Regions from separate parts of the Homo sapiens genome. Here regions 2, 3 and 4 are each reported to be linked to region 1. The links are microRNA targets in miRTarBase. Many come from high-throughput screens and were not tested one by one. Region 1 holds a microRNA gene; each other region holds the end of a gene's coding sequence.
What was found. Region 1 holds the annotated microRNA hsa-miR-4324 (CCCUGAGACCCUAACCUUAA, at 3,019-3,038, opposite strand). A microRNA usually pairs through its seed, bases 2 to 8, with sites in the 3' UTR of a target mRNA and lowers its output. Matches are read on the target gene's strand: a 7mer-m8 pairs with bases 2 to 8, a 7mer-A1 pairs with bases 2 to 7 and ends in A, and an 8mer does both.

Region 2: the mRNA of TMEM198 is a reported target of hsa-miR-4324. Seed matches in the 3' UTR shown: 7mer-m8 at 3,801-3,807.
Region 3: miRTarBase lists ORMDL2 as a target of hsa-miR-4324. Seed matches in the 3' UTR shown: 7mer-A1 at 2,685-2,691 and 7mer-A1 at 2,797-2,803.
Region 4: the mRNA of RILPL1 is a reported target of hsa-miR-4324. Seed matches in the 3' UTR shown: 7mer-A1 at 2,521-2,527.

Annotation. Positions count from the first base shown.
Region 1 is chr19:49,305,789-49,310,952 of GRCh38, forward strand. It overlaps MIR4324 (microRNA 4324), which reads right to left and starts at 3,080; the gene lies at 3,009-3,080. It overlaps SLC6A16 (solute carrier family 6 member 16), which reads right to left. Exons shown (of 12, transcript NM_014037.3): 2 at 5,145-5,164; 3 at 4,565-4,722; 4 at 4,252-4,378; 5 at 3,863-4,038; 6 at 3,513-3,623; 7 at 3,088-3,329.
Region 2 is chr2:219,548,640-219,553,803 of GRCh38, reverse strand. TMEM198 (transmembrane protein 198) reads right to left here. Exons shown (of 5, transcript NM_001005209.3): 4 at 4,450-4,652; 5 at 3,209-4,087. The coding sequence ends at 3,950. It overlaps OBSL1 (obscurin like cytoskeletal adaptor 1), which reads left to right. Exons shown (of 21, transcript NM_015311.3): 16 at 118-230; 17 at 780-936; 18 at 1,107-1,268; 19 at 1,588-1,692; 20 at 2,006-2,275; 21 at 2,962-3,076. The coding sequence ends at 2,969. MIR3132 (microRNA 3132) reads left to right here and starts at 4,657; the gene lies at 4,657-4,731. RefSeq lists enhancers at 169-669, 670-1,170 and silencers at 959-1,048, 1,269-1,428.
Region 3 is chr12:55,818,951-55,824,114 of GRCh38, forward strand. It overlaps ORMDL2 (ORMDL sphingolipid biosynthesis regulator 2), which reads left to right. Exons shown (of 4, transcript NM_014182.5): 2 at 49-223; 3 at 392-543; 4 at 1,310-2,929. The coding sequence starts at 50. The coding sequence ends at 1,445. It overlaps DNAJC14 (DnaJ heat shock protein family (Hsp40) member C14), which reads right to left. Exons shown (of 7, transcript NM_032364.6): 3 at 4,452-4,558; 4 at 4,120-4,239; 5 at 3,622-3,782; 6 at 3,423-3,525; 7 at 2,035-3,237. The coding sequence ends at 3,027. Among named protein-coding and RNA genes, the nearest start is that of ORMDL2, 3.5 kb to the left of the region's middle.
Region 4 is chr12:123,468,672-123,473,835 of GRCh38, forward strand. It overlaps RILPL1 (Rab interacting lysosomal protein like 1), which reads right to left. Exons shown (of 7, transcript NM_178314.5): 7 at 1,383-4,011. The coding sequence ends at 3,867. It also overlaps a transcript of SNRNP35 not described here. Among named protein-coding and RNA genes, the nearest start is that of SNRNP35, 13 kb to the left of the region's middle. RefSeq lists a silencer at 131-425.

The DNA.
Region 1 (5,164 bases):
TGTTACCCAAGAATAGACAACTATGCCCCAACAATCTAACTCATATCCCAGAAAAATGTGCACATATGTAGTACATCAGGAACATGCATAAGAATGTTTGCAGCAACATTGTTTTAATAGCATAAAACTGGAAAGACTCCAAATGTTATCAATAGTTGAATGGATTTTTAAAAACTGTGGTATATTCATATACTGAAACATTATACAGCATTTTAAAAGCACAGATTAGGCCTGGCGTGGTGGCTCACGTCTGTAATCCCAGCACTTTGGGAGGCCGAGGCGGGCGGATCACGAGGTCAGAAGATCGAGACCGTCCTGGCTAACACGGTGAAACCCTGTCTCTGCTAAAAATACAAAAAATTAGCCAGGCATGGTCGTGGGCACCTGTAATCCCAGCTACTTGGGAGGCTGAGGCAAGAGAATGGTGTGAACCCAGGAGGCAGAGGTTGCAGTGAGCCGAGATCACACCACTGCACTCCAGCCTGGGCAACAGAGCGAGAGTCTGTCTCAAAAAAAAAAAGAAAAAGAAAGAGCACAGATTAAAGTTATACACAATATGGATAAATATTGCAAACATGTTGGATGAGAAAAAGAAAGCACAAAAGTAAGCAAAGAGAATGTATATATGAGGGAACAAATAACTAAACATATTGCTTTATATAAGTGGACAAATTATATTGCTTAGCTATGCATACATAGATGATAGAATATAAAGAAAAACATTAATCACTATCCTTAGTTCTTTGTTTTTTTTTTTTCTTTTTTTTTTTTTTGAGAGAGAGTCTCACTCTGTTGCCCAGGTGGAATGCAGTGGCACAATCTCAGCTCACTGCAGCCTCCACCTCCCAGGTTCAAGCAATTCTCCTGCTTTGGCCTCCTGAGTAGCTGGGACTACAGGTGTGTGCCACCACGCCCGGCTAATTTTTGTATTTGTTAGTAGAGATGGGGTTTCACCATATTGGCCAGGCTGGTCTCAAACTCCTGACCTCGTGATCCATCTGCCTCAGCCTCCCAAAGTGCTGGGATTATAGGCATGAGCCACCGCACCCGGCTTGTTTTTCTTTACATTTGATCATCTATGTATGCGTATCTACTAAGCAATATAGTAACCACTATCCTGACTTTTATGATGGTTACCTCTGGGAGGCAGTAAAGAGATTATGATTAGAAAAAGATACACAGAGAGCATCTAGGGTTATTCTAGTTCTTAATACAGGTGATGTTTACTTCACGGTTCGTTACACAGTGCATTGTTTTATACACTTTTTTTTTTTTTTTGTTAGAGGAAGGGTCTCGCCCAGCTGATTTCAAACTCCTGGGTTCAAGCAATCCTCCCACCTCAGCCTCCCTAAGAGCTGGCATTACAGGCGTGAGCCACTGCTCCCGGCCTTGTTTTATGCATTTTTCCATATGTAGGTAATAGCTCATAATAAAAGGTTTTTTTGAAAATACACAAAAAAACTACCATTACACTCCCACCAGACTGGAAACAATTTAAAAGTCCAACCAAGTTTAATCAAGTGTTGTGCAAAAAGTAGAACAAATGGAAGTCTCACACATCCCTGATGGGAGGGCAATGCATTACGCCACTTTGAAAACCAGACAATATATGATAAAATTGAAGGGGAGCACACCCTACTCAGCAATTCCTTTCCTAACTATATGCTGTCAAGAACTCTTGCACACGCACACATGTATATTCCCAGGCATCTTCTAGAAGAAAATGGTGGTTATTTGTGAGGGTTAGGGTTACTAGGAGAGGTCGGGCGCGGTGGCTCACGCCTGTAATCCCAGCTCTTTGGGAGGCAGAGGCAGGAGGATGGCTTGAGCCCAGGAGTTCAAGACCTGCCTGAGCAATATAGTGGGACCCTGTTCTCAAAAATTTAAATTAAAAAAAAAAAATCTGCTGGGAGAGAGAGGAAGAGGAGGAGGAAGCAAAAAAAAAGAAAAAGAAAAAAAAGAAAAAGAAAAAAAAAAGATTACTGGGAGAAATTCAACTCAGGGTTGCCTCCTCTGGAAGGCCCCATCTGACTAGTCCAGACAGAATTAATGGCTCTGTCTCCTGTCCTCACCCATCACTTCAGTTACCAGTTAGCACAAGTTTTTGGCTGTCTCATTCTCCTTTCCTTCCCCCTCCAAAATTGAAAACTTAATGAAACAAGGACTGTGGTCTGATTCACCTGTCCAAGTCTCTGTTGTATAGAAAGAACACTTCCTAAATGTCTGTCTGATGGATGTTTTTGGAATTAATGCCTAAAAATAAGAAAAATAAGAAACAGGGGTGATCAGACAATCAAGGTTCTAGTACAGAGAATCCTTTTGGAGTTTCTGCTAGATTGACAGAAATCCCCAATTCAGGAGTTAACAGTTAAGAATGGGGGCCTTAGGGCGCGGTGGCTCACGCCTGTAATCGCAGCACTTTGGGAGGCTGAGGCGGGCGGATTATGAGGTCGGGAGATCGAGACCATCCTGGCTAACATGGTGAAACCCTGTCTTTACTAAAAATACAAAAAAATTAGCCGGGCCTGGTGATGGGCACCTGTAGTCCCAGCTACTCAGGAGGCTGAGGCAGGAGAATGGCTTGAACCCAGGAGGCAGAGCTTGCAGTGAGCCAAGTTCGCGCCACTGCACTCCAGCCTGGGTGAAAGAGCGAGACTCCATCTCAAAAAATAAAAATAAAATAAAATAATGGGGGCCTTCTACTTCTCCATTTTTCCAAGGATGGCCTTGGAAGTCTCTGTGTGGTATGGTCTTGGATGGTATTTTGTTGTGTATCTGGGATTAGAGAAGCCTTCAATGTTTGCAATTTTTAGTACATCCCTGTTAGCATATCCACTCTGAGGTGGATAGCTGGCAATCTCTGAGTTTGAAGATTTATTTCTAGGGTGACAAAAGGCTCTGAGAAGGATAATATATGATAGGAGATTCTATTGTCTCCATTTTTAGCTATGGGGAAGGTAGAGGGCTTGCAAGTGCACCCAAGGTTGAAATGTGTGAACATGGGTCTTTGCAGCACCTTTAAGGTTAGGGTCTCAGGGTTTTAAAGTTCCCTGGAGCTGAGACCCTTAACAAAGGGGCCGGCCTTACCTCTCACAGCAGCGATGTGTGATGACTGTCGCCCAGAAGCCCAGGACACAGAAGTTGAAAGATGTGAAAACCAACAAAGTGAGCAGGTTTATCACAGACACGAGAAAGGCATCACTGAGACAGTTGTTGGACTGGGGCATGTAGGAGGCTAAGGAGGCAACGGAGCCAAGGCCTATGCCTGTGTTAGACAAAACTTGACCCCCTGCTAGAGACCACACACTCATATTGTACACATCCGATATCTAAAAGAGAGAAGACAAGCATAAGGGGGTTGTAAAAGAAGAAGCAGAGGACAACTATAATAGAAATGTTGCAGGGAGGAGAGAGGGAGATACAAAAGTAAAGAATGGGGAAAGGAAGCTCTAAGAATAGGCAGCTGTGGTGCCCTACAAGGCCTGACGGGGGAGTGAGGAGATAGATTTCACCTTGGCAACCACCAACTGTTGAAGGCCAAATTTTGCCCCTTCCAGGAGTAGAGTCCGGATGAAGAAACCGACAATGATGAAACAGGGGAGCAGTACCAAGACATAGATTACCTGAATCGAGAGTGGGACATATCAGCAACCGTGTACCAGTAGGGGTCAACCAACAGTTAGGAGGGATCAAAAGTTCTGAGTCAGAAATGAGTAGGAGTTAGAAGAAAGCCTTCAGCAAGAGTCAGGGGCTAGGGGAGTAAAAGCCAAAGGAGTAAGAGATTAGGAGATCAACAAGTAACAAATTGAGGTAAGGGCTAAAGCATCTGAGAATTTCAAGGAATCCAATACTGGTGGCTCACCTTCCCAGTGGACTTGAGCCCATTGATCATGAAAGCACCAACAAGACACCAGCAAAGAAAGAAGGGCAGGACCAGACTGTAGACTGGTGACCCGCCATCCTCGATTCTGTCTGAGGCCTTCAAGGCCTGCTGGTACCAGAAGTATATGGAGGGTGTTGTCCGTTCACATTCAGGATCTGGGGGGACCTGGCTTTAGACATGCCTGCTAGACAAGGTACCCCCTCTTCTTCCTTATCCCCTCCCCCACCTCCCTTTTCTCTTTCCCTCTCCCATTTCTTTTTCCTTCTTCTTCCTCTTCCTTGTCCCTCCCCACTCTCTCCTATTCCAAATTCCCTTCTACTTCTACTTCTCCATTTTTCCCTTCTCCTCTTCTTTCACTTCCTCCTCACCAAAGCCACTAGAGTTCATCGTTAAGGGACATTTCTCCCATGGAACGGGAAACTGGAAGGACTGGCTCATGTAGAAGATGATCCAGGAATTGACCACATTGAAGTACAGGCCGAGGATGAAGCACACCTGGGGGCCAAGGAGGATATGGCTGGGGAGGAAGAGCAGGGACAGGAAAAGGGAGGGGATTTGACAGAGGATTGGGGAACCAAAGGGATCTGACCCATGGAGGTATTCACAGGGCGCATTTCAGGAGGAGGGTTGGGATGGCGGTGGGGTGTAAAAGTCAGGCCTGGGCAGCCATGGGCTCCTCACCATGAAGCTAGAATACCCCACACCACCAATCCAGGGGGCAATGATCTTCCATACACCCATGCCACCCTGACGCATGCTCTGACCAGCTGCCATCTCCAGGAAGAGAAGAGGAACCCCGACCAGGAACAGCATGAAGATGTAGATGGCAGCGAAACTGCCTGTGAAGAAGATTCAGAAGGGACTCTGAGAACCATGTGGCCTTTCAGTGCCTGGACTCCAGGAGCCCAGGAAAACATTCTCCCTACCAGCGACCTCTTCCAGGGCCACAGGCATCAGGGCTCACCCATGTCTACATCCCTCACGGTCCCAAGTGTCCAGTCCTCTGGCCCCCAAATCCTGGAAGACCCAAGTACCTAGTTTCCAGCCCATCTTGGGCCCAGGCCTCCAGCTTTGCCATCCCCATGTTCAGATACCCTGAACCTCTCATGATCCTAAGTGTCCAGGGACCTGGCTCCTATCCTGCTCAGAGCACCAGGTCTTTAGTCTCTACATATCTCAGAAACATTCATGGTTAAAGCCTGGACAGGACTCTGTCCTGATTGCCCCTTGTGGACCCAGGTTTCCTGGTCCCCAGACTTACAGCCTCCACTGTTAAGCCAC
Region 2 (5,164 bases), not on the chromosome of region 1:
ACCCCACTCGCTAGTGTCCTCTACTGCCTGTTGTGCCCAAGTGTATGTCCTCCTTGTCCCTGCAAGATGGGTCCCCATCCTGCTCCCTCTGCACTGTCCTCCCTCTCCCACCCCCAGAGGTCCCAGTGACCATCGTGCGGGGGCCACACGACCTAGAGGTGACCGAGGGCGACACAGCTACGTTCGAGTGCGAGCTTTCCCAAGCTTTGGCTGATGTTACCTGGGAGAAGGTCAGATCCCAGCCCCAGCCAAGCCCACTTCAGTGTAACACCAACGATAATAATGCCCCAGACAGAAACAGCTAATATTCCTTGAGCGGATGTGCCTGGCACTGTGCTAAGATTTGCATTATATTTAATCCCTTACTCCAAGGACAACTCTAGGAGGTAGGTCTTGTCACTGTAATACCTATCAGGAAACTGATGCTCAGTGGGAAAAATTACCTACCCAAGGGCAGACAACAGGTAGAGCCCATATTCGAATCCAGGTTTGCCTAACTCCAGAATCCGTGCCCATGTCCCCTGTGATCGATACCTGGCTCTGGGCTTCCCGAGTGCCTTGGCGGCCCTAAGGTCCCCAAAGGGTGACGCTTTTTCAAAGAGGCTCCTGGCACGACCCCAAAGGCTTGGGGACAGTCCGACCCCAGCCTGGGAACACGAGACACGCATAAACGCGCCTCGAGACCGCTTGGCATCAACAAAGGGTGCGCCGCCTGCCAGGGCCGGGGTCGCCTGTGCCCAGCCGGGCTCGCCCCGACCCTCTGCAACTCCCGCCCCTAGGACGGGAACGCGCTTACGCCTAGCCCGCGGCTCCGGCTCCAGGCCCTCGGCACGCGCCGCCTTCTCCAGCTGCGACGCTGCGGCCCCTCGGACGCCGGGACCTACAGCTGCGCGGTGGGGACGGCCCGCGCCGGACCGGTCCGCCTGACCGTGCGCGGTGGGTACGGGGTGATGTGGAGGCTGGGCACTGCTTTGGGCGCGAGACTTGCGGAGCTGTCTTCCCCGGACCCTGATGACCGCGCGTGCTTCTAGAAAGGGGGCGTGGAGGGGGCGTGACCGGTAACTGCCCTCTGCCCCGCCCCGCTCACGCCCCGGGCTCCGCCCCAGAGCGTACTGTGGCGGTACTCTCCGAGCTGCGGTCGGTGAGCGCCCGCGAAGGCGACGGCGCTACGTTCGAGTGCACCGTGTCGGAGGTCGAGACCACGGGGCGCTGGGAGCTCGGAGGCCGCCCGCTGAGACCCGGAGCCCGCGTCCGCATCCGACAGGAAGGTCTGCCCGCCTGGTTACCCTTTCGGGCCCCTCGCTGCCCCGCCCAGGCTCGAACAGATCCCGCCCCACCGGGACAAGCCCCGCCCCTGGCTCCGACGGGCCCCGCCCCACGGCCCTGTGAGCCTCGTCCCTGTTCTTTCCCCCGCCCCCAGCCCCTAGTCCCGGACCTCTAGGCTTCCCGCTCCGCATCCCTGTTCCGCCCACCCTAGCATACACTAACGGCGTCCGAACCGACCCAGGGGCCTGCTGGGCCCCCACCTTCGTCCCCAACGCTCCTCAGAGGTGGCTCCGGCCTCGCTAGCGACCCCCTCACCCCCAGGGAAGAAACACATTCTGGTGCTTAGCGAGCTGCGCGCCGAGGACGCCGGTGAAGTCCGCTTCCAGGCGGGGCCCGCCCAGTCCCTGGCTCTACTGGAAGTGGAGGGTAAGCACCTGGGGTGGGAGCGACAGAGAGTGTACATCCTGTCTCTCCTGCCATGGGACTGACGGACTTGGGGCTGGCCCCAAGAACGCTGCCTCTCTCTTCCCTTCCCCCCGAGGGGCTCTCCTGGGCCGGGTCACAGAGGGCAGCGCGTTTCCCCGGCAAGAGGAGACTTTGGGTCTGAGGTGCAAGGGAACGGACTGGTGGCATAGAGGGCTAAGGCCAGGAGTGGAGACTTCAGGGAGGGAAGATGCATCTCTCCTCCTGGGGGCCATGCGTGTCCCTATTAACTTAAGCCCCCGCCCCCTACCCCCAGCATTGCCTCTCCAGATGTGCCGCCACCCCCCTCGCGAGAAGACCGTTCTGGTGGGCCGCCGGGCGGTGCTGGAGGTGACTGTGTCCCGCTCGGGGGGCCACGTGTGCTGGCTGCGGGAGGGGGCCGAGCTGTGCCCGGGAGATAAGTATGAGATGCGCAGCCACGGCCCCACCCACAGCCTGGTCATCCATGACGTTCGACCTGAGGACCAAGGCACTTACTGCTGCCAGGCCGGCCAGGACAGCACCCACACACGGCTGCTGGTAGAGGGTGAGTAAAGCCAACTGGGCAGCGGCAGGAGGGTGAGGGCGCCTGGGAGCTGATGGGTTAAGCCACACCTATGGGAGGCTTTCCAGAACTTGGGGTGGCAACGGGTCCTGGGATACGTAGGAGGTGGGGATGGGGGAGGGGAGGGGTAGAGCACACCCAGGGCTGGAAAGCCCTGGAACTGCTTGGCTCAGATCAGCTGCTCCTGGTCAGCTGTTCCCACCTTTCTACGCCCCTTCTTGCCAGGCTTCTCCTCTCTCCTGCCACTGGACCATGTTTGTCTCTCTTGAACAGCCCTGTTTCTACCAGTTCCTTTCCTCCCCACTTCACCAACACTGCCTTCCTCCAGCCTGTCCCTCCTCCTTCCTGCCCTCTGCCCAGCTTGCCTCTGCCCATCTCAGCAAGTTCCATGTCAGCCTTGGCAGAAGCCTCTTTCTTTCCTCTTCCCCATAAGAGACATCCCACCTTCTATCCCAAATCCCAGCATTCCCTTCAGGTGCCGCGCTGTGCCCCACCCCTAGCTGACCCCCACCTTCCTGCCGCCAAGACAGCCCTAACCAAGGCCCAGAAAGGGTAGGGCAGAACCTGGGGGCCCAGCTCTTTGTGTACTGGTGTCCAGGCTCTGCCAGGGGAGAGGAAGGTGGTACCCCCTTCTCTCCCCAGCCCCATGTGGAGTCATTCCTCTGCAGGCAACTAGGAGAACCTAACCAGGCCAGGCGGGTGCCCTTGGACAGCTTGGAAGGCGTTTGCCCTTACCCTGGGCAGGGGTAGAGAGACAAGGAACAATAAAAGTGCTACAGCTCATTTCCTTGCCTCTCTGAGTGATGTGGGGGGGCAGACCTTGCCTGGAGCCCCTGTGCAGTGAGCGACACTGGGGACCGAGGGCTGTAGTGCTTGTACCTGGCCCATGAAAGTGCCAGCCACCAAAGACCACCATTCCTGGCAGAGGCCACACAGTTTGGCACATTTATAAAAGATGTAAAACAGAGTGGGGTGGGGGAGACAGAAGCATGAGGTGTCTAGGTTGGCATGACAGACACCAGACATGCACCGTGCATTTAAACCCCTCCCCAACTCCCTTCCCAACCCAGCCCAGAGCAGCACCCCCCCACCCCCATCTCCTGCCACTGCCCTCAGGCTGGTGGCTTTACAGAGGCCAGGGGACCAGGGTGAGGGATGCTACAGTTTGCCCCATAGACAAGGACAAGAACCCTTAGATGAGTCTGGCTGCGAGGCAGGGCGATGGGAAGGAAGGTAGCCCCTCCGCGGAGACATGCAGGAGGTGGCCCATGGGACCTTGGCAGGGAGTGAAGAGGTGGGGCTGAGCCTGGAGAAACCCTACCAGTCAGAAATCTAAGGCAAGGGTCCCAGCGTCCCCTCCAAGCCTGCCCACCCCCACACACATACACACAGACACACGGGCAACACACTCACAACCCTGAGCACACCCCAATGGGGTTCACACCCCGAGTTCCTCAGGAGCCTCTTGGGAGCTTGGGAGGGGGCTTTCCTCTCAGGCCAAGACTCGCCTGAGACAATCCTCCCTTCTAGTGACCAGGCCAGCCCTCTCCAGGCTGGGGAGAGGGACAGCCAAAGCCAGGAGGCTGAGTGGCAGCCTAGCAGGCCTCCTCGAGCTGGCAGAGCTGGTGACTGCAGAGTCTAGACAGACAGATATGGCTATACCCGCACTGGGGGGCCTGAGCAGGCTGTCAGAGGTCCCCGGGACCCATACTCATAGTCCGCATCTGTGGGTGAGGCCATGAAGGAGCTCAGGGAGCTCCCGGTCTGCCGGTCTCGGAAGCTCTGGATATAGCTCTGTGGGGGAGCAAACATAGGTGTGAGTCCCACCGCAGAATCCTGCCCTAAAAGCCACCTCTTCCTGAATTCCCACAAGCCTGACACTTCTATAGACTGCCATAGACCCAGAGTCCACAGCCCTGAGACCCCACCACATACCATATCCCACTTAAAACCCATACTCAGGAACCTTTCCCCCAATTCCCCCACCAGCTGGACCCGCCAAGCCCCTGGTGCATGGGCTCCGATGCATGGACAAACAGTTCATGGACAAACAGGCCTTCTAGATAGCAACCAGCCCGTGGGGAAAGCCCAGTCCTGTTTGGAAAGAGTTTCCACACTTCCTTCTCATTCTGGCTGGATGGGCTCAGGGAGCTCACCGGGGAGAGGACGTCTCCATTGAAGCGTTTGATGGGCACTGGCCTGCGCCGATAAGCAGGGTCTGGTGGCCCAGGCCTGGGAGGAGCCCGGGGACCTCTGAGGGGAGCCCGAGGAGGTCTCTTTTTCCGCCTTTTCTCCTTGCGATCTTCCTGCTGCCGAATCCGCATCAGTTGCACGCGTCGGCGCTGCCGGCTGATGACCACTGTGGTGGGATGGGTAGAGAAGGAGCTCAGAGGACGGTGCGCCTTGTTTCCCTTGAGCCCTCCCTCTCTCATCCCACCTGTGGCTCTAGGCTTCCAGATTCCTCTTGTCCATAACCCCTTACTCCCACCCTGTCACTTCCTTTCCTGGTCTCCTACCTCTCAGAGGAGACTTCCCGCTGTTGTTCTTTTCTTCCATAGGTCTTTATGGAAGGTTGCTAGGCTTCCAGGTACCCCCTTCCAGGCTGTCATCCCTCTCCCAATCACCTAGGCCAGCCATCATCATCTTTCCACTGGACAATCACAGCTGCTTCTTCACTGGTTTCCCCCTACACTTGCTCCCTCCAATGCTTTCTACACTCGGCAGCAGAATGAGCATCCCAAAAGCTAAATTAGATTCTATCCTCCCCTACTTTAAACTCTCCAGTGGTTTAAAGTCTTATTGCCCTTCTAATAAAATGTGGAGTGCTTCTTATGACCCAGAGGGTCCACGCAATCACTCTGGCTCCCACAC
Region 3 (5,164 bases), not on the chromosome of region 1:
TGAGAAAAAACTGAGCTGGACTCCTGCCTGATCCCCCATTACGGCTAGGATGAATGTGGGGGTGGCACACAGCGAAGTAAACCCCAACACCCGAGTGATGAATAGCCGAGGCATCTGGCTGGCCTACATCATCTTGGTAGGATTGCTGCATATGGTTCTACTCAGCATCCCCTTCTTCAGCATTCCTGTTGTCTGGACCCTGACCAACGTCATCCATAACCTGGTGAGCACTAAACCACGCCCTTGTACCCACCCCAGGGTTTCCCAACCAAAAGCAAAATAAAATCACCAATTGTTTGGGGATTTATGTGTTCCTTTTGGGATCTTAACATAATTCTTTGACTGAAAAACTACTTTCTGCCCCTCACACTGCCACCTTCCCTGTTCCCAGGCTACGTATGTCTTCCTTCATACGGTGAAAGGGACACCCTTTGAGACTCCTGACCAAGGAAAGGCTCGGCTACTGACACACTGGGAGCAAATGGACTATGGGCTCCAGTTTACCTCTTCCCGCAAGTTCCTCAGCATCTCTCCTATTGTGCTGTGAGTCTATGGGGGAAATGAGATATGCTGGGTTAGAAAGAGCTCCAAGAGCCAGGTAGAAAGGCCCATAGGGAAGCTGTTAAAAAGCAGACTTCTCATCTAAAACCCTTTGAAGATATTATGGTATACTAGTTCTAAGCCTACAGAGAGCAGTAAAATGTAGATTACAGTCAATACTGTAATCAAGCATTCCTTGCTGCCTCCTTGGTAGTAAGGAAATGAAGGGACTGAGAAAAGATAAGTGCCAAATAAAACCAAATGATTTTACACTGCCAAAAGAAGTAAATAAAGGCAGAACTGATATTAATCTTCAAAAACACTGTAGGGAGTGGAAGCAAAGAGGACTGTAACAGTCATACAGACTGAAATAGCTTGAGCCGTCATTTGCCATGTCATTAACAATTAACAGATACTGACTTACAGTCTCCAGTTAAGGGTGCTATCTCCTGAACCCCAAAGTAAATGCTGTTGATATAGCTGGAATAGTTTTAGATAATCTAGAACTATATACAGTAAAACTGGTCATTTAAAATAGAAGAGAAAGAGCAGGGCACTGTGGTGCATGCCTGGAGTCCCAGCTACTTGGGAGGCTATGGCAGAAGGATTGTTTGAGCCCAGGAGTTTGAGGTTGTACTGCACGTATCACACTTATGAATAGCCACTGCACTCCAACCTGGGAAACATGGTGAGAACTGTCTCTTAAAAAAAAAAAAGAATATGGATAGAGAAGGTCAACCTCACTCACCCTATTTTTTTCTCTCCCCAGCTATCTCCTGGCCAGCTTCTATACCAAGTATGATGCTGCGCACTTCCTCATCAACACAGCCTCATTGCTAAGTGTACTGCTGCCGAAGTTGCCCCAGTTCCATGGGGTTCGTGTCTTTGGCATCAACAAATACTGAGGGATGGGTTTTGGGACAGCTCCATGGGCATGGGGAAGGCACTGAAACAGAGGACTATAAAACATCCTTCTCTTATTCTCCATACTGTCTTCTACACCTTTAAAGCCTGAGAACTATACAACCTTTCCCAGACTCCCAAGAAGAGAAGAGATTGGCAAATGGGGCTCCTGGGCCCAGTCCTGCTAGTGGCAAGTTTCTTTGAATCAGGAAGGCAGGTGAGGTAAGGGCCAAATCACTCTCCTCCATAGCAGGAAGCCATTTGGGCAGCTTCTTTGGTGATTACATCTTTCCATATCTTTTACACTTACCACCTTCCAGCTCTGTTTTGCTGTGTATTTTTCTTACAATAATTTTTTTCAGCTATAGCTGCAGTTTAATCAGGATGGGTAGAGAGCTGTCCTCATAAGGCTGGGGGTGGGAAGATGGAATACTGACCTAATGTATAAAACTTAAAACAATTCTCCAATCCCCTCTCCTTTGGTCCAGTAGGAGGTGCCCTTCACTCTAAGCTTAACACTTAGTAGGGAAGAGATTCTCAAATGAGAAAAAGGGCTCCGGCTATATGGGCAACAAAGAGGGAAGATACAGGTTGCCAGTTATACATTTATAGAAAGATAATCCCCTGGCTTTAAATAGTCATGTACATACAAATATGAACAAACTTAAAAAAAAAATACAAACCCTTGGATCACATGGGGGCTTCTGGGAACCCCCGTATTCTTCCCCCTCACCCAAGGGCAGTGGGCATGAATCTACTTTTTAAAAATGATTAATTTTGGCCATCCTTGCAGAAAAGAGCCTAAAATTGGGTGATTTACCCACAAAGTGAAAGTCGAGGGAAAATTCAGTTTCCAGTCTCTGAACTCTATGCGATAATCTCCTATCATTAGGGCTACATGCTTTCTTGTTCTCTTTTAAATATTATATCAGGATAAAGGAGAGGGCTCCCTCCTGAAATGGGTCAAGAAAGAAGATAGACTTGTAGCTTTAAAAGGGTGGGAAAAAGTGTCATCTGCCCTAAAAGCAAATGACAAGACAAAGGCATACAGACCCCAGGGAAATACCCAGTTCCCACACCTAAAGGGATACACTGTCCAGCCCAGGTCCAGGCCCTAGGTTCTTTACTCTAGCTACCCCCTATTTCTTTGGTATTGTCAAAAGACAAGATTCAGGCCGGGCACAGTGGCTTATGCCTGTAATCCAGCACTTTGGGAGGCCAAGACGGGTGGATCACCTGAGCTCAGGAGTTCGAGACCAGCCTGGGCAACATGGTGAAACCCCGTCTCTACTAAAAATACAAAAAAGAATTAGCTGGGCCAGGTGTGGTGGTGTGTGCCTGTAATCCCAGCTACTCAGGAGGCTGAGATGGGAGAATTGCTTGAACCCGGGAGACAGAGGTTGCAGTAAGCTGAGATCACACCACTGCACTCCAGCTGGGCAACAGAGCAAGACTCCATCTCAAAAAATAAAAAGAAAAAGATTCAGTTCCTAGGTGTTGGGGGAGGAGGGATAAATCAAACTCCATCCTGTGCTACAGCCCTTTTGACTCCCTGACATTGATTTGAGGAAAGAGAAGGGGCATCAACGTTGGAAGGGCCTCCTCACTTTCTTCCGCCGCTTAGGTTTGGCTTCTCCCTTGGGTACTGTGCTGTTGGGCTTAGAGGCTGCAGCGGCTCCAGGGGCAGGCTGAGGAGCTGCAAAGAAGTTCCCATTGGGCATCTGCCCTGGGGGTACTTGAAAGATCCGACTCAAGAAATCCTGAAGATCAGCAGGAGGGGCATCTGGGGTGGCTCTGAGGTAAAACAGAAGAAATAAGGCAAGAGATGTTAGAGTCATATGGTTACCTAAGTTAGATATACTTATCAGTTCCCAAACTTCCTAGAAAACAAGGCCCCTGGGTGTCCTAAAAAGCAGGTCATCTGAAACCGTATTCAAAACTGAAATAGTGGATAGATTATTGACAGAAATACCACCTACCTCTGCCGCCCTCTGGTGCCTGGAATCCGAGAACCAAATGAGATGTGATAGGGGACTCTGTGGGTATCTGGGGAGATACCTACACGCTGGCATCCAGCCCACTCTATAAACATGAGAAATAATTAGCCAAAACGTCGCAGTTTAGAGCACATAAAAGATCAGGAAGTATGAGCCTGTATTTCTAGAGGACAGAGAGTACCTGTGATGTCATACACCTTTCCATCCATCAGTGCAAAGTAGGTGATCTTGAGGCCCAACATGCTTGACTCTGCCCAAAAGTCTCCTTCCTCAGCAGGATGCAGCCTATTACACTCAGCACAGTATCTGGCACTCTTAGGTTCCCGGTCCATTTCAAACCTCCTGCAACCAACAAAAGGATAGTTCCTTAATAATTTGTCAAGCCTACCTAGGGCACTGCTAGTAGTCTTACCATTATTCACAAATAGGGCTGAAACATCTAAAATTACCCCACTTAGTATTTCATATCCCTTCAACGTTCTATCCTAAAGCTAATGTTTCTTAGTGCTAATTAAAATCGTCAGTCTATTGACAATATGACAAAGGTAGAAACTTAAGGGTCTTTTTACTAATTATGAGATACAGATGTAACTCATAATTACCAGTACTCACTAGAAAGATCCTTGGTTACATAATCCCTGAGCTGTGATTGTCCCATCCCTCTCCTTCTATTTCATACCTATGCTTTCCTTGGCATCGGCTACACATCATAGTATTCATTGCCTCCTTGAGGTCATCTTGCAGCTTGGACAGAAACTCATTTACTGACCGGCTCAGCTCATTCTCTGCCATTCGTTTCCTAATAGAAGAAATGCTTTGTAAGTCAGAAGGTATTGAGGGAGGGACAAAGGAAGACATATCAGTTGGCCTCTTGAGGCCCCTGTCTAGCGAGAAAGACAAGTGACTTCAGTTCTCTCCATCTCAACAAGCCTCCACCCCCAAGTCCAGATGCCTCTGCTATTGAGGATTTTTCATTTACCATTATCTGATGATTTCCCATCTCCAACTTACATCTCATACTCCTTTCGCTTTTCAGCATTGCTGACAATGTCCCAAGCTGCTCGCAAAACCTTGAAGGCCTCCTCAGCCCGGGGATGATGATTTTTGTCAGGATGAACCTACCAAGACAGAGAGATTTCATTACAAATCCATTCCAACCCTCTCCTCACCTTGAATTTATTCTCATATCAAAGGGTTCTCTTTCATCACCCTTTTGAAGAGTCAGTGTAGCTTAATGATTAACTGCTCTGACTCTGCAGATCTGGTTCAATTCATGGCTCTGTTATAATTAGCTACATTACCTTGAATATCTTTTTTTTTTTTTTTTTTTTTGAGATGAAGTCTCGCTCTGTCACCCAGGCTAGAGTGCAGTGGCACGATCTCAGCTCACTGTAACCTCCACCTCCCAGGTTCTAGCAATTCTCCTGCCTCAGCCTCTCTAGTAGGTGGGATTACAGGCATGCACCACCACACTCAGCTAATTTTGTATTTTTAGTGGAGACGGGGTTTCATCTAGTTGGCCAGTCTGGTCTCGAACTCCTGACCTCAAGAGATCTGCCTACCTCAGCCTCCCAAAGTGCTGGGATTACAGGCGTGTGCCATCATGAATATCTATCATGGATTGTTGGGATTATCTATCATGTCAGCCTGAATATCTATCATGGATTGTTGGGAGGATTAAATAAGAATATATATGAAGTATGTAGCAAAGAATCAGGTACTAC
Region 4 (5,164 bases), not on the chromosome of region 1:
AGAGTAAGACCCTGTCTCAAAACAAAAAACAAAAAACTTGCACACTCAGACTCCAACCCTGTACATTTGGGCTTAGTGTTCTATGGGCTGTGGTGACTTTGAAAGAAAAACAATGGTACAGCCTCCATGGTAGGGACTTTGGCAGTCTCCATGAACATGACAGAAGCAAATACTCTTTGATCTAGCAATTCTGCTTCTAGTTTATTCTGTAGACTTTTGTGTGTGTGACAGTGTGCAACACTTTTTGAGAGTAAAGGATTGGAAGGAAGCTACCTGTCCATCAGTGGGGCCTAGATAAACATTAATAAATATCACCCCCATATGGTAGACCAGGGCATTGTAGGATGTTCATTAGCACCTTCCTTGGTGTCTACCCATAGATGACAGTATCCTCTCTCCCCCTCCAGTTGTGACAATCAAAAATGTCTCCAGACTGCCAAATGTCCCCTGGGGGGCTCAGTCATCCGTGGTTGAGAGCCACTGTCTTTTCTTTTTTTTTTTGAGACAGAGTCTCGCTCTGTCGCCCAGGCTGGAGTGCAGTGGTGCGATCTCCGCTCACTGCAAACTCTGCCTCCCGGGTTCAAGCGATTCTCCTGCCTCAGCCTCCTGAGTAGCTGGGACAACAGGCGCATGCCCCCATGCCCAGCTAATTTTTGTATTTTTAGTAGAGATGGGATTTCTCTATGTTGGCCAGGCTGGTCTCAAACTCCTGACCTCATGATCTGCCTGCCTCAGCCTCCCAAAGTGCTGGGATTACAGGTATGAACCACTGCTCCTGGCCATGAGAGCCGCTGTCTTATGTACTCATATGGAGTTATTGCTATACATTTTTTTTTCTTTTTTGAGGCAGGGTCTCACTCTGTCCCCCAGGCTGGAGTGCAGTGGTGTGATCACAGCTCACTGCAGCCTTGAACTGGGCTCAAGGGATCCTCCTGCCTTAGCCTCCCAAGTAGCTGAGATCATAGGTGTACACCACCACACCCACCTATTTTTTTATTTTAATTAATTTTTTGTAGAGGTGGGTTATTGCTATGTCACCTAGGTTTGTCTTAAACTCCTGGGCTCAAGTGATCCTCCCTACTTGACCTCCCAAAATATGGGGATTATAGGTGTGACCCACTGCACCTTGGCCCTCTCTAGGATATTTCAAGGGGAAAAAAGAAAAGCACAGAACAGCATGAATATATTATGCTGCCATTTAAATAAAAAAAAAAAGGAGGGCCAGGTATGGTGGTTCATGTCTATAGTCCCATCTACTCGGGAGGCTGAGGCAGGAGGATTGCTTGAGGCCAGGAGTTTGGGACCAGCCTTGGTGACATAGTAAGACCTTGTCCCTTAAGAAAAAAGGAAAGAAGGAATATATACACACATGTACATATATATATGCTTTTTGTTCTTGATTTTATTTTACATAATTGCATGTATAAACTTTCTGATGGATTGATTTTTCCTTTCTGTCCCGATTATCTAGCCTCTGATGTGCTCAAGAGCTGGATCTGCTGACTTATCAAAAAAGTGACATTTGGCCAGGCACGGTGGCTCACACCTGAATTCCCAGCACTTTGGGAGGCTGGGGTGTGAGGATCACTTGAGCCCAGGAGTTTGAGACCAGCTTAGGCAACAAAGTAAGACCTGGTCTCTACAAAAAATAATTAGCTGGGCATGGTGGTGCACATCAGTAGTACCAGCTACTTGGGAGGCTGAGGTGGGAGGATTGCTTGAGCCCAGGGGTTCATAGCTGCAATGAGCTATGATAGTGCCACTGTACTCCAGCCTAGGTGACAGAGTGAGACCCTGTGTCCAAAAAAAAAAAAAAAAAAAAGGCCAGCCACAGTGGCTCACACCTGTAATCCCAGCACTTTGAGAGGCCAAGGCAGGTGAATCACTTGAGGTCAGGAGTTCGAGACCTCGAGACCAGCCTGGCCAACATGGTGAAACCCCGTCTTTACTAAAAATACAAAAATTAGTCAGGTATGGTGGCACACACATGTAGTCCCAGCTACTTGGGAGGCTCAGGCATGAGAATTGCTTGAACTCAAGAGGCGGAAGTTGCAGTGAGCAGAGATGGTGCCACTATACTTTGGCTTGGGCAATAGAGCAAGACTATCTCAAAAAAAAGAGAGACATTTAGTGTTTAGGAAAGATAACCAAGAAACTGGCAATTTTGGTTACCTGTTGGAAGGGCAACAAAGGTGGCCAGGGGTGGGAGAGAAATTCATCAGTATACCTGCTTCTATACTCTTTGAGAATAAATTCTAATAATTCTAATGGGCACTCAGGTTTGAGAAACACTGCTCTAACGCAGCAATAATTACCCTGTCTGATCATTTCTTTTTTTCGGCAATCTGGAAGCAGAGTCCATTCTAGATTCTGCAAATTCACCTGATGGTTTCTTTCTTTCTTTTTTTTTTTTTTTTTAGATGAAGTCTCACTCTGTCGCCCAGGCTGGAGTGCAATGGCACGATCTAGGCTCACTGCAACCTCTGCCTCCTAGGTTCAAGGAATTCTCCTGTCTCGGCCTCCTGAGCAGCTGGGATTATAGGCATGCACCACCTCGCCTGGCTAATTTTTTTGTATTTTTGTAGAGATGGGGTTTCACCGTGTTGGCCAAGCTGGTCTCGAACTCCGGACCTCAAGTGACCCACCTGCCTCGGCCTCCCAAAGTGCTGGGATAGCAGGCGTGAGCCACTGTGCCCAGCCTCACCTAATGGTTTCTTAGCAAACTTCAGTAGAATGTTTAGAACGCGGCCCTGATAAACTTGAGTGCTGGTAGGAGGTGCTACCTCGCTCAATCTGTGAGCAACCAGCCCTGTGCCCTGGATGCTTGGCGGGTGGAGAGAAAGACAGTGTTATGTGGGCAAGCCTCCAACTCACCAGTTGCAGTAGAGCATCTGGCTCTCTGTCTGCTGCTATAGCCCTGTGAGTCAGCCAGACGTGTGGTCCCCAAGCCAGCTTCCCACCTAGCACCCTTGTTCTGCTACAGCTCCCCCACCTGCCCTCCTGCATTGCCTAGGATCCCACGCCCCGCTTTCAGTCTGCTCTGGGACATCTGTCTTCTTCTTTGCAGGGGACTAAGTATATGACTTAATGAATCCTAAAAGGAAAAAAAGATGTCAGGAAAAAAAAGTGCACACAAGAAATGTTGCAACATCTCATCCTTAGCAACTTTGTTTGGTTAGTACTGCATAACTCACAGCAGATTCCAAGGCACCTGCCTTGAACATTGCTACATGCTCTAGGCATTATCAGGAACGCAGCCAGGGTGCCTGCAAAGTTGTCTCCAGTTTCTGGGTAAGAGGACCATCATCCATATTGTCTGTGGCTTTGTGTCTGAGTTGGGCTACTGAGCCTGTGACTTCAGACCCCTTGTCTGCCTGATGGATACATTCTGTATAATACGTTACCATCACAATTTCATGAATGTAACTAATGAAGATCTAGCCCTTCCATGCCTCCTGCTGAACTATGTCACCTGTGATAATAAAACCTCTACACATAGCATTTTATACAAAGCAAGTCAAACAGCAATGATAGTGGCAAGTGATGTATTTGGCTTAAAGAAGCTTGTGTTACTGAAGTTAACGCAGAAGTCTGGCCTCCGTTTGTGGGATTATTAAATATATATCCTACGGGATCAGAGTCATCTATTAGAAACAGTGATAGCCCTGGGTATAAATAAACATTTCTTTAGAGTTTGGCGTCAGTTTTTCAATGTCCATCCTCAAATCAGACAGTCTGTTTGAGGGGTCAGTTTTCAGGGTGCATCTGCACCGAGAGGCTTGAGGCAGCAATGACCCCTGGGCTGCAGTTCGGTTGCAGGCGCTGGTGGCGGGCAGTCCAGGTTGGAGGGTGGAGATGGGCCAAGGTCACAGATGCTGCAGGGCTTCCTGTCCTTGCTCTGTGTAACCGTCATCGCGGTGGGTGTTTGCCCACTGTCCAAAGGACTCCTGGATGTGCACGTTTCTCTGTGTGTTGGCCAGGCGCTTCTTATCTCGGGAGAAGAAGCTAAACCTTTGGAAGGGAAAGCAAACACAGAAATGAGAGCTGACCCTTTGCTGTGCAAGTCACGTTTTTTGCAATGCCGGAGACATATAGCAGCAAACTTAGAAGGGAGCAAATCAATTCAAGGTGTGAAAGACAAAGTTGGGGGTGCAGGTCAAAGTTATTCCAAGAAAGCAGCAGGGTATTCTGCGTGTCATTTGGACACGGTACCTTGGAGGTCACGCGGTATGGGCAAGGCATGCATGCTGATGTGATGTGTGAGGTGTCTTCCACGTTAGCCGCTATGGAGGATTTATCCCGTTACCAGTGGAAATCAAAAGCTGCTGAAACAAATCTTGGGTTTCTTTAATTACCCTAATGACGCAGAGAAAGGAATACTTGAAAACCGTGTGGAATATAAGAGGATTCTGTTGTAAACGAATGAGTATTTCTAATTTAAATAGTTCTGTATTTGTTTAATGTCAGTCAGGAAACTGTGGCCCAGATTTCATGGACATTACTGCTTAGATGAGGCTAAAGGAAGTACTTAAGAAAAATGAACAATAAAACATATACTATGGGCTGAGCGCGATGGGTCACGCCTGTAACCCCAGCACTTTGGGAGGTCGAGGCAGGCAGATCACTTGAGGTCAGGAGTTCGAGACCAGCCTGGCCAACGTGGTGAAACCCCGTCTCTACTAAAAATACAAAAATTATCCAGGTGTGGTGGCACACGCCTGTAATCCCAGCTACTTAGGAGGCTGAGGCAGGAGAATCGCTTGAATCTGGGAGGCGGAGGTTCCAGTGAGCCGAGATCACGCCACTGCACTCCAGCCTGGGCAAGAGAACAAGACTCTGTCTAAAAAAATAAAATAAATATATATATATAAGTAAAACATGGTACGCATGGTTCTCTGATATAAAATTAGGGAAACATCCATTTGCACTTTCAAAAATAGATCTAATGGTGAAAGCCTTTAGGCCGTATCACTGTAACCAGCTACAGAGCCACAGTTAGTCTGGCCTCAGACTTTAACTGAGGTAGACAGAGGTCTTTTTAAAACAGCTGTGACTGTTGCATATTGATCAGAGAGAGCCATCAGGAACTTTCAGATGCCTGAAAGATAAAGGCAGAAGTCATAAGCATACTTGAGTTTGTTACCATAGAAAAAAGAAAGAAAAA